Linked DNA regions of Homo sapiens. The protein of the gene in region 3 interacts with the protein of the main gene of each other region in a biochemical or structural test. Each region holds a gene or a part of one and is shown on either strand. Other genes may lie near its edges. The genes, in order: KMT5C, KMT5B and H4C7.

Region 1 (3,748 bases), on a different chromosome or scaffold from region 3:
CGCAGATGCCCCTGCCCATATGTACAGAGACCCCCTACACACACACATCTCTTTGGGCCCAGAGAAGGCTGACTGATTGGCAGCCGGGATCACCCTAAAGGCTTAGCACCGTGGGGAGCCGCTTCACCTCTAGCCCTCAAGGAGGAAAAGTCAAAGCTTCCCGCCAGCCCGAGGTCCCGCCCTCCACCCCCACCTCGACCCAGCCTCGGTCTCCGCCCCCTGCCTCCCCGGCAGCCTTCGGGAGTGGTCAGGAGGCTCCGGGTGAAGCCCCAGGCAGCCTGGAGGCGGGTGACGGGAGGGAGGGCAGGGGAGGGATCCCAGCACCTGCTCCCTCTCCAAGGATTCCAGGGGAGGGGGGCTCAGAGGACAAAAGCGGGGGTGGGGAGGGGAGCAAAGGAAGACTATGGGGAGGCAGCACAGGTCAATATTTACAAAAACATTTTTTTAAAGCGGAGCCAGGAGAGAACGGAGAGATGAAGAAAACCACCCAAACCCCTAACCCGGACGGAGGGCCAGCCTCGTCCCCGCACCACGGCGCTCGAGGCTCATCCGCGCCCAGGAGAGGAGGAGATGGGGCAGGGCAAGGAGCGGGAGCTGCAGAGACGGCTGTGGAGGGGTCGGGGACAGACTGCGAGGCTGCGGGAGAGAAAGAGGGGGCGCTGCAGGAGGACGCCAGGGACAGCGGGGAAGCTGGAGAGGGGGCTGGGGGCAAGGAGAGAAACGCACAGCGGTGGGCACGGCAGGGGGCTGTGGGAGGGAGAAGGCTGCAGCCGGGCCTGGGGGCGCTCAGAGGGGTGTGAGGAAGGGATGGGGGTGCCAGGGAGGACAGAGAGCGGGGAATGGCCTAGGGACTCAGGGAGGAGCCAGACGGGAGACCTGGGTCGGGGGGCGGTCCAGGGATGGCGGAGAAGATCCTGGGTGTCCAGTGAGTGAAGGGCCTGAGAGGGCGGACAGGGGCCCAGGGATCCAAACGGGCTTGGTGGGGTCCTGGGGGATCCAGGAAAGGGAGACCCTAGGGAAGGGCCTGGGGACCCAGGGAGGCGCCTGGGTAGGCGGTGAGAGCCCAGGGCAAGGGACCTGGAGGGTCAGAGGCCGACCTCAGGGTCCAGGGAGTGCCAGGAGAGGGACAGAGGGGTCAGGGAGAGGTTCTAGGGCACAGAAAGACCTAGAGGGTCCAGAAGGAGGCCTGGAGGGTGAGAGGAGGTCGGGGATTGGCCCTGGGAGTGCAGGGAGGTCCCGGGGGTGAGAGAAGGGTCAGGGAGAGGCCCTGAGGGTGCAGGGAGAGACCTGGGGGTGCAGGGAGAGGCCTGGAGGGTGAGGTCAGGGAAAGGCCCTGGGGGGTGCAGGGAGAGGCCTGGAGAGTGACAAGAGGTCAGGGAGAGGCCCTGAGGATGCAGGGAGGGCCGTGGACGTAAGAAGGGGGTCAGGGCCCGGGTGAGGAAGCACAGGAAGGAGGCTGCAGTGCCGCGGAGCCCGAGGCCCGGCGAGGGGCCGGGAGACGTGGGCGCCTGGACACGAGGAGGGGCCGGGCGGGGTGGGGGGCAGTCGGGGCAGGGGGCGACTGGGGAGCCAAGGCGGCGCGGGGCTGGGGCCGTGAAGGGGCTCAGAGATCGGGCCCCGCGCCGCCCCTCACCCGCTTCTCCTCCTCCTCCTCAGGCGCCCGCGCCGCCGCCGCCAACACCTCCCACAGCCTCCTTCGGCTCTCGTCAAACACTGTCGCCGCACCTCCCATCTGCTCTCCGGGCCAGCCCCGCCAAGGCCACTGAGGCTTTCTATTGGCCACAGCCACCGCCACTCCTCCGTTGCTACGAAGCTCACGGCGCTCCCATTGGCCAAGCCCCACTCTTTCCCTCCGCGCCCGGCTCTCGTCAATACACAGATAAAACCCCGCCACGCCCCCGCCGCCGTCAAACGCCGCGAACTGTTGTCAGTGGTTCACATCGCTGTCCTTTAGTCGCTGCCATGGAGACTTGTCCCGCCTTCGCTCACACTGGGGCTCGAAATCGACGCACTCATTGGCCGAAAGCGCAGTCTCTCCGGGCGAAACTCGGTTTGGGTCGGGTTATTCAGGTCCAAGTGGAAAGAGGGCGGGCTCTGCCAGCTCCAGTAGTCGTATATGATTGCCTGGCCTTGGGACAGCTCCTCTTTCCATTGGGTAAGGCCTCCGTCCATCACCATAGAGTCGCGGCCTCCCTCTTCTATTTCTCCGAGGAAAGCTTCGGCCACAGGAGGGAGAAAGCCAGACCCGGCGGGAGGGAGGCGGTGAATGCGCGCGCACCGCCATCCCTCTCCCCTCCCGCCCCGCGAGGCCTGCGGTTACCAAGGCGACGAAACTTTATTGACAGCTCTGCCTGGCTACAAAGGGCTCCTCAGTCTCTCTCCCTCCCTCCCCGTTTACACCGTTGCGTTTTGGGAGTATCCACACGCACTCTGTGGGACCTTCCCGCGATATGAACGGGGTCGGATGGAGGGAGGGGAGGCTGAGGGAGGAGTGGGGACTTTTGAGACAAGCCCTGACTCCTGGGGCGCTCCCCTGGGGCACCCCCTAATTGGGATCACCCCCCCTACCTCAATCCTAGAGGCAAACGTAACTAACAATTCATCATAATTACGCCGAGAATAATAAGCTCCACACTCAGAACAGGCGGTCTTTGTTTGCTTGTTTGTTTGTTTCGCCACAGCCATTCTTCCCTTAACGACACTGATACCATCTGGGCAGTGCGTGCTCAGGCGATGTCGTCATCCTGCCAGCATCCTAGAGCAACATCACTCACACCTACGTGGCAGGGCTGCTGGCACCTGGGCTGTAAGGTGGCCGGCGGCTCCTGGGCCACACAGCTGTGCAGCATGTTACTGTCCGGTAACACAATGTAGGCGCTTGTGTGTCTACACATATAGGATCACTGTCAGACATGCGCTCCACTGTACAGCTATAGATCGTGGGCACTTAAAACAATGCATGCCACAGAGTAGGTGCTGTTTTGGTGTGCTGTTTTTGGTGTTTTGGTGTGTGTGTGTGTGTGTGTGTGTGTGTGTGTGAGAGAGAGAGAGAGAGAGAGAGAGAGAGAGAGAGAGAGAGAGAGAGAGAGACAGAGACAGAGTATCGCTCTCTCGCCCAGGCTAGAGTGCAGTGGAGTGATCTCGGCTCACTGCAGCCTCTGCTTCCCAGGTTCAAACGATTCTCCTGCCTCAGCCTCCCAAGTAGCTGGGATTACAGGCATGCACTACCACCCCTGGCTAATTTTTTTTTAGACAGAGTTCCCTCTTGTTGCCCAGGCTGGAGTGGAATGGTGCGATGTCGGCTCACTGCAACCTCCGCCGCCCAGGTTCAAGCGATTTTCCTGCTTCAGCCTCCCAAATAGTTGGGATTACAGGCATGCACTACCATGCCCGGCTAATTTTTTTTTTTTTTTTTTTTTTTAGTAGATACGGGGTTTCACCATGTTGGTCAGGCTGGTCTCGAACTCCTGACCTCAGGTGATCCACCCACCTCAGCCTCCCAAAGTGCTGGGATTACAGGCATGAGCCACCATGCCTGGCCTGTATTGTGTTTTGAGACAGGGTCTTCCTCTGTTGCCCAGGCTGGAGTGCAGTGGTGCAAGGATGGCTCACTGCAGCCTCGACCTCCTGGGTTCAAGCGATCCTACAGCCTCAGCCTCCTGAGTAGCTGGGACCACAGACGCATGCCACCATGCTCGGCTAATCCTTTAATTTTTGTAGAGACAGGGTCTCTCTAGGGGCTCATTCA
Region 2 (3,748 bases), on a different chromosome or scaffold from region 3:
ATCATATTTTGACATCTCTCTAATCACCTTAGTTCATCTGCATGTTTCATGTAGTTTTACCTCCTTTTTTTGAAATGTCATTATGAGATAGTTAATCAGTTGGGTTTTAGAATTGAGAGACTAGGGTATCAGTGTCCCCCCCCCCAAAGCTTGATTGGGGGCCTGTATGACTCCTACAATGCCAGTTGCATTTCTATAAGCTGTCTTAGTTTGTCTGTTGTAATAGCACACTAAAGAAAACAGTACCGGCCGGGTACGGTGGCTCACGCCTGTAATCCCAGCACTTTGGGAGGCCGAGGCGGGTGGATCACGAGGTCAGGAATTGAGATCATCTTGGCTAACACGGTGAAACCCCGTCTCTACTAAAAATACAAAAATTAGCCTGTAGTCCCAGCTACTCCGGAGGTTGAGGCAGGAGAATGGTGTGAACCCGGGAGTTGGAGGTTGCAGTGAGCAGAGATGGCTCCACTGCACTCCAGCCTGGGCGACAGAGCAAGACTCCGTCTCTTAAAAAAAAAAAAAAAGGGGGAAAGAAAACAGTACCTAGATCCGGGGATCATTTGCTGGTGATAAACCTCTAGGTGGTACACGTGGCTCAAGCACTGGAGTAAACCCCAGACTGCAGTTTAAAGATGAAGGTTTTAGACCCACCCTTACCACTTAGTAGCACTTTGAGTTTAGGAAAGCAATTTGTTTCTGAGCTTTAGCCTCCTTGTTGTAGTGCTAATACCTGTTTCACCTGATAGGGTTGCTGAGCTAGCGAATCCCGAGTCCTGCATGTTAGGGGAACCAGTAGAAACCGAATGTGTGTGTTGTGACACCTGTGTTTCTACCTTGTGCCACCTTTATAGGAATGCCTGGTCAGCACATCTCTAATGGCACTCGGCTTGCTTCTCAGGCCTTACGCAAAAGGCCCATTCAGTGAAGGGTCATTCTGCTTCCTAGTCTGTACTTTTCTACCCTGTTAACTTTTTTTCCCCTTATGCATCTGTTTGGTTTTCTTCCCTGACTCAACGACTGATTTTCCTGAAAGTAGAAGCTCTCATACGCCCTCTAGTGTTCCCTGGACATGACCAGTATTCCAGCACCACGAACAGTGCCTGGCAGCTCTGGGAGGTTCTTCATAAGTTTGTTGAACTGAGTGGATTCTAGGTCGGCCCGATGAATTGTTTTGCCTGTCTGATTTGTATAACACGGTTGAAATGTATGATACATTTTAATGGTCTCTGAGGAGTATTTTTATTTTCGAGGCAATGTTTATGTTGCATCATATGGAGAAATAGATATTTTTAGTAAGAAAACCAATCTGATTTTAGGAAGCTGCAGCTTTCCTCACTGAGAAGTAAAAGGGGGCTTGATCCTTCAGCCAGTGAGCCAGTGGCACCATAGGAAACCCCCCTTCACTTTCCCCCTTGGAAAGGAAACAAAACCAGACGTCATTCAGGGTCCTGGAGGGTTTAAAGCAAATATTTGTTTGGTGCATATAAATAAGTACCAGGAGGGCTTTTGACCCAAAAAAGGTATTTTTTGTTTGTTTGTTTTTGAGACAGGGTCTTGTAGCCTCCCAGGCTGGAGAGCAGTGGCATAATCCCAGTTCACTGCAGCCTTAGTCTCCTGGGCCCAAGCAATCATCTCGCCTTGGCCTCCCAAAGTGCTGGGATTATAGGATGAGCTGCCATGTCTGGTCTTGTTTTTATATTTACAATTTTGATTTATATTTCCCTGATCATCCCATCTCAAGTCCATTCTTACATTAGTCTCTCTCCTAACATCCTGTTTGTTTTTCTTACAGCTCGCATCAGATTGATAACCACATACTTACTTACATCTCTTCCCATAGTATGCTCTGACCTCTATGCAGTCAGGAACGATGTCTATTTTGCTCTAGAGTTTTACTCTTCAAATATGGGGCACAGTGGTTTTTTTGTTTGTTTGTTTGGAGACAGAGTCTCACTCTGTTGCCCAGGCTGGAGTGCAGTGGCGCGATCTTGGCTCATTGCAACCTCCACCTCCCAGGTCCCGGTTCATGCAATTCTCCTGCCTCAGCCTCCCGAGTAGCTGGGATTACAGCCACATGCCACCACGCCTAGCTAACTTTTGTATTTTTAGTAGAGACGGGGTTTCACCATGTTGGCCAGGCTGGTCTTGAACTCCTGACCTCGTGACCCTCCCGCCTCGGCCTCCTAAAGTGCTGGGATTACAGGCGTGAGCCACCGTGCCTGGCTTGGGCGAAGTGTGTTTAAAAATTTGTTTGGGGCCAGGCGTGATGGCTCACGCCTGTAACCTCAGCACTTTGGGAGGCCGAGACAGGTGAATCACGTGGTCAGGAGTTCAAGACCATCCTGGCCAACATGGTGAAACGCTGTCTCTACTGAAAATACAAAAATTAGCTGGGCGTGGTGGTGGGCACCTGTAATTCCTGCTACTCGGGAGGCTGAGACAGAGAATTCCTTGAACCTGGGAGGCAGAGGTTGCAGTGAGCAGAGATCGTGCCACTGCACTCCAGCCTGGGCAATAGAGCGAGACAGCGTCTAAAAAAATAAAAAATTTGTTTGGGTCATTATTCTGTGTTGTTTTTTGGTTTGTTTTTTTTTTTTTTTTGAGATGGAGTCTCACTCTGTTGCCCAAGCTGGAGTGCAGTGGCACGATCTTGGTTCACCACAACCTCTGCCTCCTGGGTTCAAGCGATTCTCCTGCCTCAGCCTCCCGAGTAGCTGGGACTACGGGCAGGTGCCACCATGCCTGGCTAATTTTTGTATTTTTAGTAGAAATGGATTTTCACTATGTTCGCCAGGCTGGTCTCGAATTCTTGACCTCGTGATCCGCCCACCTCGGCCTCCCAAAGTGCTGGGATTACAGGCGTGAGCCACCGTGCCTGGCCTGTGTTGCTTTTTTGTGTGATATTAACAGTACACAGTCTCTCAGCCTGGACTTCACTTCAGTTTTTTTTCTAATTCTCTGAGTTTTGTTCTCATTTGTAAAATGGGGATGATAGTATTGAGTGTGTGTTAAAGGGCAGTGATGTTTGTATCTTCTTTTATAGGGTGTGAAAATAATCTGTTTGACCAGGTACACCACAAACTAAACTGTGTTGTAAGAAGCTCTGTAGTCCAGTCTGTGGTCCCTCTGAATGTTTAGGATGGGAGATGTAGCTTGGCATGATTTTTTTTTTTTTTTTGAAACGGAGTCTCGCTCTGTCGCCGAGGCTGGAGTGCAGTGGCGCAATCTTGGCTCACTGCAAGCTCCGCCTCCCAGGTTCACACCATTCTCCTGCCTCAGCCGCCACCATGCCCGGCTAATTTTTTGTATTTTTAGTGGAGACGGGGTTTCACCGTGTTAGCCAGGATGGTCTCGATCTCCTGACCTCGTGATCCGCCCGCCTCAGCCTCCCAAAGTGCTGGGATTACAGACGTGAGCCACTGTGCCCTGCTGCTTGGCATGATTTTTAATCATGCGTGTTGCAGCCAGAAGTTACATTCCTTCTCTTTGGGAACTGTAGGGAAAGCAGAACTGGTGCTCAGCCTTGTGTCATAATTATTCTTTTGCACATTTGTTCTTTTTTAAATGGGTGAGGTGATGAGATTTTTTTTTTCATGTGTGAGTTATGGTGGGGAATAGAAGGGAAATTTCTACTTGATTAAAGTTTTGTGAAGAATGTTTCTGGCCTGCTTTACTTTTGCCTTAGTTACTTGGAAGGGGAGACCTTAATTTGTTAGCAGTTTGTGCTCATTTAAAATATCTTGTGCCA
Region 3 (3,259 bases):
CAAGGTGTTTCTATATTTACGATGGATCACAAGCAAAGGCACGAAACAGGTAAACTTCTTTTAGTGCTGCTAAATTAGATCATTGAACTAGCAAGGGGGCCAGTCCCTCCACTGCAGACACATTTGTCAGAACGGCACCTGGCAAGTTTGTGCTAATTATTGTGTATTCTCTGGTTATTGAAATTGCTTATTAAGCAGAATATAAAAGTCGGGTTATCTTGGCACTAAAACTACAATTTTAATTACGGAGGGTAATCCTAACAGTAAGGAGAAAAACACACTACCATAACCACATTTTGAGAGCTTTTAAGTGACAATGTAGCCGTTGATGTCCTCAGCCAGCCCACCAGATTTCTAATCTCTGAACACACGATTAACTTACCACCTGTATTCCATGTTGTATGTCAGCCTTGGCGTAAATTTATACTTTACAGCATTATACACCTAACAGCTTTTGGGCACCTACAGCAATAAAACACACAATATTGCTGAGTGCGTTAGTTAAGTTTCCACAATGTCAAACGTGAGCCCTTCGGAAGAAAACGTACGCGGCCCTGAAAAGGGCCATTAACGATATTGCAAGGAAAGGCCTGGCCTCACTTAACCGCCAAAGCCTTACAGGGTTCTTCCCTGGCGTTTGAGCACGTAGACCACGGCCATGGCGGTGACCGTCTTGCGCTTGGCGTGCTCCGTGTTGGTCACGGCGTACCAGATCACATTTTCCAGGAACACCTTGAACACCCGGCGGGTCTCCTCATAAATGAGGCCCAAGATGCGCTTGACACCGCCATGCCGGGCCAAGCGCCGGATAGTGCACTTGGTAATGCCCTGAATATTATCGCTCAGTACCTTGCGATGGCACTTGGCACCGCCTTTCCCAAGGCCTTTTCCGGCCTTGCCCCGAACAGACATGATAAACAAGTCAGAACTATCTCTAAACAAAACGATTACTCGCTTTCCGCAGCCTTTTATATAACGGTAGAGTAGACCTTTTTGAAAACTGAAAGACCAGGAAAGGCGGGAAAACGTATTCAGTCCCCGCTCATCTACTTCTAGTAATAACAAGACATAAGAAATTCTCTTGTAGTAGGGAGATTTGCTGGCATTTAGAGAATAAGGATCTCTAAACGAAAGTGTCAAACATGTACCTAGAGGAAAGTATCTCGATTTTTGATGTCTGTATGTGTTTAAAGATTTACTCCTGGCCGGGCGCGGTGGCTCACGCCTGTAATCCCAGCACTTTTGGAGGCCGAGGCGGGCGGATCACGAGCTCAGGAGATCGAGACCATCCTGGCTAACACGGTGAAACCCTGTCTCTAATAAAAATACAAAAAATTAGCAGGGCGAGGTGGCGGGCGCCTGTAGTCCCAGCTATGCAGGAGGCTGAGGCAGAAGAATGGCATGAACCCCGTGGGGTGGAGCCTGCAGTGAGCCGAGATCACGTCACTGCACTCTAGCCTGGGCAAGGGCGAAGCCCGTCTCAAAAAAGAAAAAAAAAAGATTTACTCCTTCCCTGTATATTAGAGCATTTACCATGCTGAAGTTGAAACAAGCCCAAATTCCAAGACATAAAAGAATTCCTAATCATATTGCCAAGCCGCCCAGCTAAAGAGAAGTAGCCTGGTTTTTGGTTTCGAATCTGTGAGTGACTGCTCTCTCACCGATATTAGACATGTTAATCTGAGTTTCAATGGCCCTATCTGTAAAAAGGGTAAATACTTGTTAATAATTGAGTTACTTTAAGCAAAACACTGGCATATAGTTAGTAAATGATTTTTTTTTAAAATACGGAGTTTCGCTCTTGTTGCCCAGGCTGGAGTGCAATGGCGCAATCTCTGCCCACTGCAACCTCCACCTTCTGGGTTCAAGCTATTCTCCTACCTCGGCCTCCCAAGTAGCTGGAATTACAGGTATGTGCCACCACTCCCGGCTCATTTTTGTATTTTAGTAGAGACCAGATTTCACGTTGGCCAGGCTGGTCTCCAACTCCTGCCCTCAGGTGATCCGCCCGCCTTGGCCTCCCAAAGTGCTGGGATTACAGGCGTGAGCCACCTCACCGGCCAGTTGGTAAACGAATTCTTATTGCCACAGCCTTTTTTTACAGACAAAATAATAATGCAGAGGTAAAGCACACCGAAGGATTTTAAAACATTGCCTTTGCAACACCAATACATTCAGTGTGCTTTCACTTATATTAAGCACTATACAATTAAGCAATGAAGAATTGCCCAGAAAAAAGATAATGTAAATTGCCAGAGGCTCCATGCCCTGTTCTCATGTGGAGGACAGAAGGTACAGGGGGTGACTGTCTTCTGGGGTTGATACAACAGGAAACTCAGGGAAAGCTGTCATAAATGTTAATAGGAGAAAAGGGGAATTTGCTCACAAGCCAAAATAAAGACATAAGCACCACTAAATTTTTACATTACAAAATACTTGCTGAGCTAGTTAAACGAGAGCATTTAAGTGGAAATAAATGATGTCTCTAAAATAGAATGTTCAAAATAACAATGGATTTTTTATTGTGCAGTTACGATGCACCAAACAAACAGTCCTAAAGATCATGGGTTTTTGAAGCAGGGTCAGCAATATCTAAAAAATCATGTAACTGCATAAATGAATTATGGCCTAATGAGCAGGTCACCACAACAAAAAGCCAAGAGTGCAAACAACTATTTGTGGGGAAAACAAACAAACAAACTTGATAAACCATGGAATTCCAAGCAATAAAAGCAGCAATCCCATCACAGCCTATTTCTACATTATTTTGAAATAATTAGATTTTTTTTTTTTTTTTTTTTTTTTTTTTTTGAGGCGGGGTCTCACTCTGTAGCCCAGGCTGGAGTGCAGTGGCACGATCCCGGCTCACTGCAACCTCCACCTCCCAGGTTCAAGTGATTCTTCTGCCTCAGCCTCCCTAGTCGCTGGGATTACAGTTGCCTGCTACCACGTCCGGCTAATTTTTTGTATTTATAGTAGACAGGGTTTCTCCATGTTGGCCAGGCTGATTAAATTACTAGAATAACAAGAAATTGCGCTGGGCACGGTGGATTACGCCTGTAATCCTAGCACTTTGGGAGGCCAAGGAGTCACATCACCTGAGGTCAGGAGTTCCAGACCAATCATAGCCAACATGGTGAAACCCCCGTCTCTACTAAAGCTACAAAATTAGCCGGGCGTGGTGGCACACGCCTGTGATCCCAGCTACTCGGGAGGCTGAGGCAGGAGAATCGCTTGAACCCGGGAGGCGGAGGTCCCA

Evidence for each region.
Region 1: of the proteins of H4C7 (region 3) and KMT5C, one has a biochemical effect on the other in vitro, tested with the Homo sapiens proteins (one study listed by BioGRID).
Region 2: of the proteins of H4C7 (region 3) and KMT5B, one has a biochemical effect on the other in vitro, tested with the Homo sapiens proteins (one study listed by BioGRID).

What each region holds. Positions count from the first base shown.
Region 1 is NC_000019.10:55,337,843-55,341,590, reverse strand, and holds the start of KMT5C (histone-lysine N-methyltransferase KMT5C), read right to left. Parts: upstream 1,716-3,748; 5' UTR 1,634-1,715; exon of another isoform or gene 877-1,633; intron 1-876. UniProt on the Homo sapiens protein: Histone methyltransferase that specifically methylates monomethylated 'Lys-20' (H4K20me1) and dimethylated 'Lys-20' (H4K20me2) of histone H4 to produce respectively dimethylated 'Lys-20' (H4K20me2) and trimethylated 'Lys-20' (H4K20me3) and thus regulates transcription and maintenance of genome integrity.
Region 2 is NC_000011.10:68,206,644-68,210,391, reverse strand, and holds part of KMT5B (histone-lysine N-methyltransferase KMT5B), read left to right. Parts: intron 1-3,748. UniProt on the Homo sapiens protein: Histone methyltransferase that specifically methylates monomethylated 'Lys-20' (H4K20me1) and dimethylated 'Lys-20' (H4K20me2) of histone H4 to produce respectively dimethylated 'Lys-20' (H4K20me2) and trimethylated 'Lys-20' (H4K20me3) and thus regulates transcription and maintenance of genome integrity.
Region 3 is NC_000006.12:26,246,066-26,249,324, forward strand, and holds H4C7 (histone H4-like protein type G), read right to left. Parts: upstream 932-3,259; 5' UTR 913-931; coding exon 616-912; 3' UTR 546-615; downstream 1-545. UniProt on the Homo sapiens protein: Core component of nucleosome. Nucleosomes wrap and compact DNA into chromatin, limiting DNA accessibility to the cellular machineries which require DNA as a template.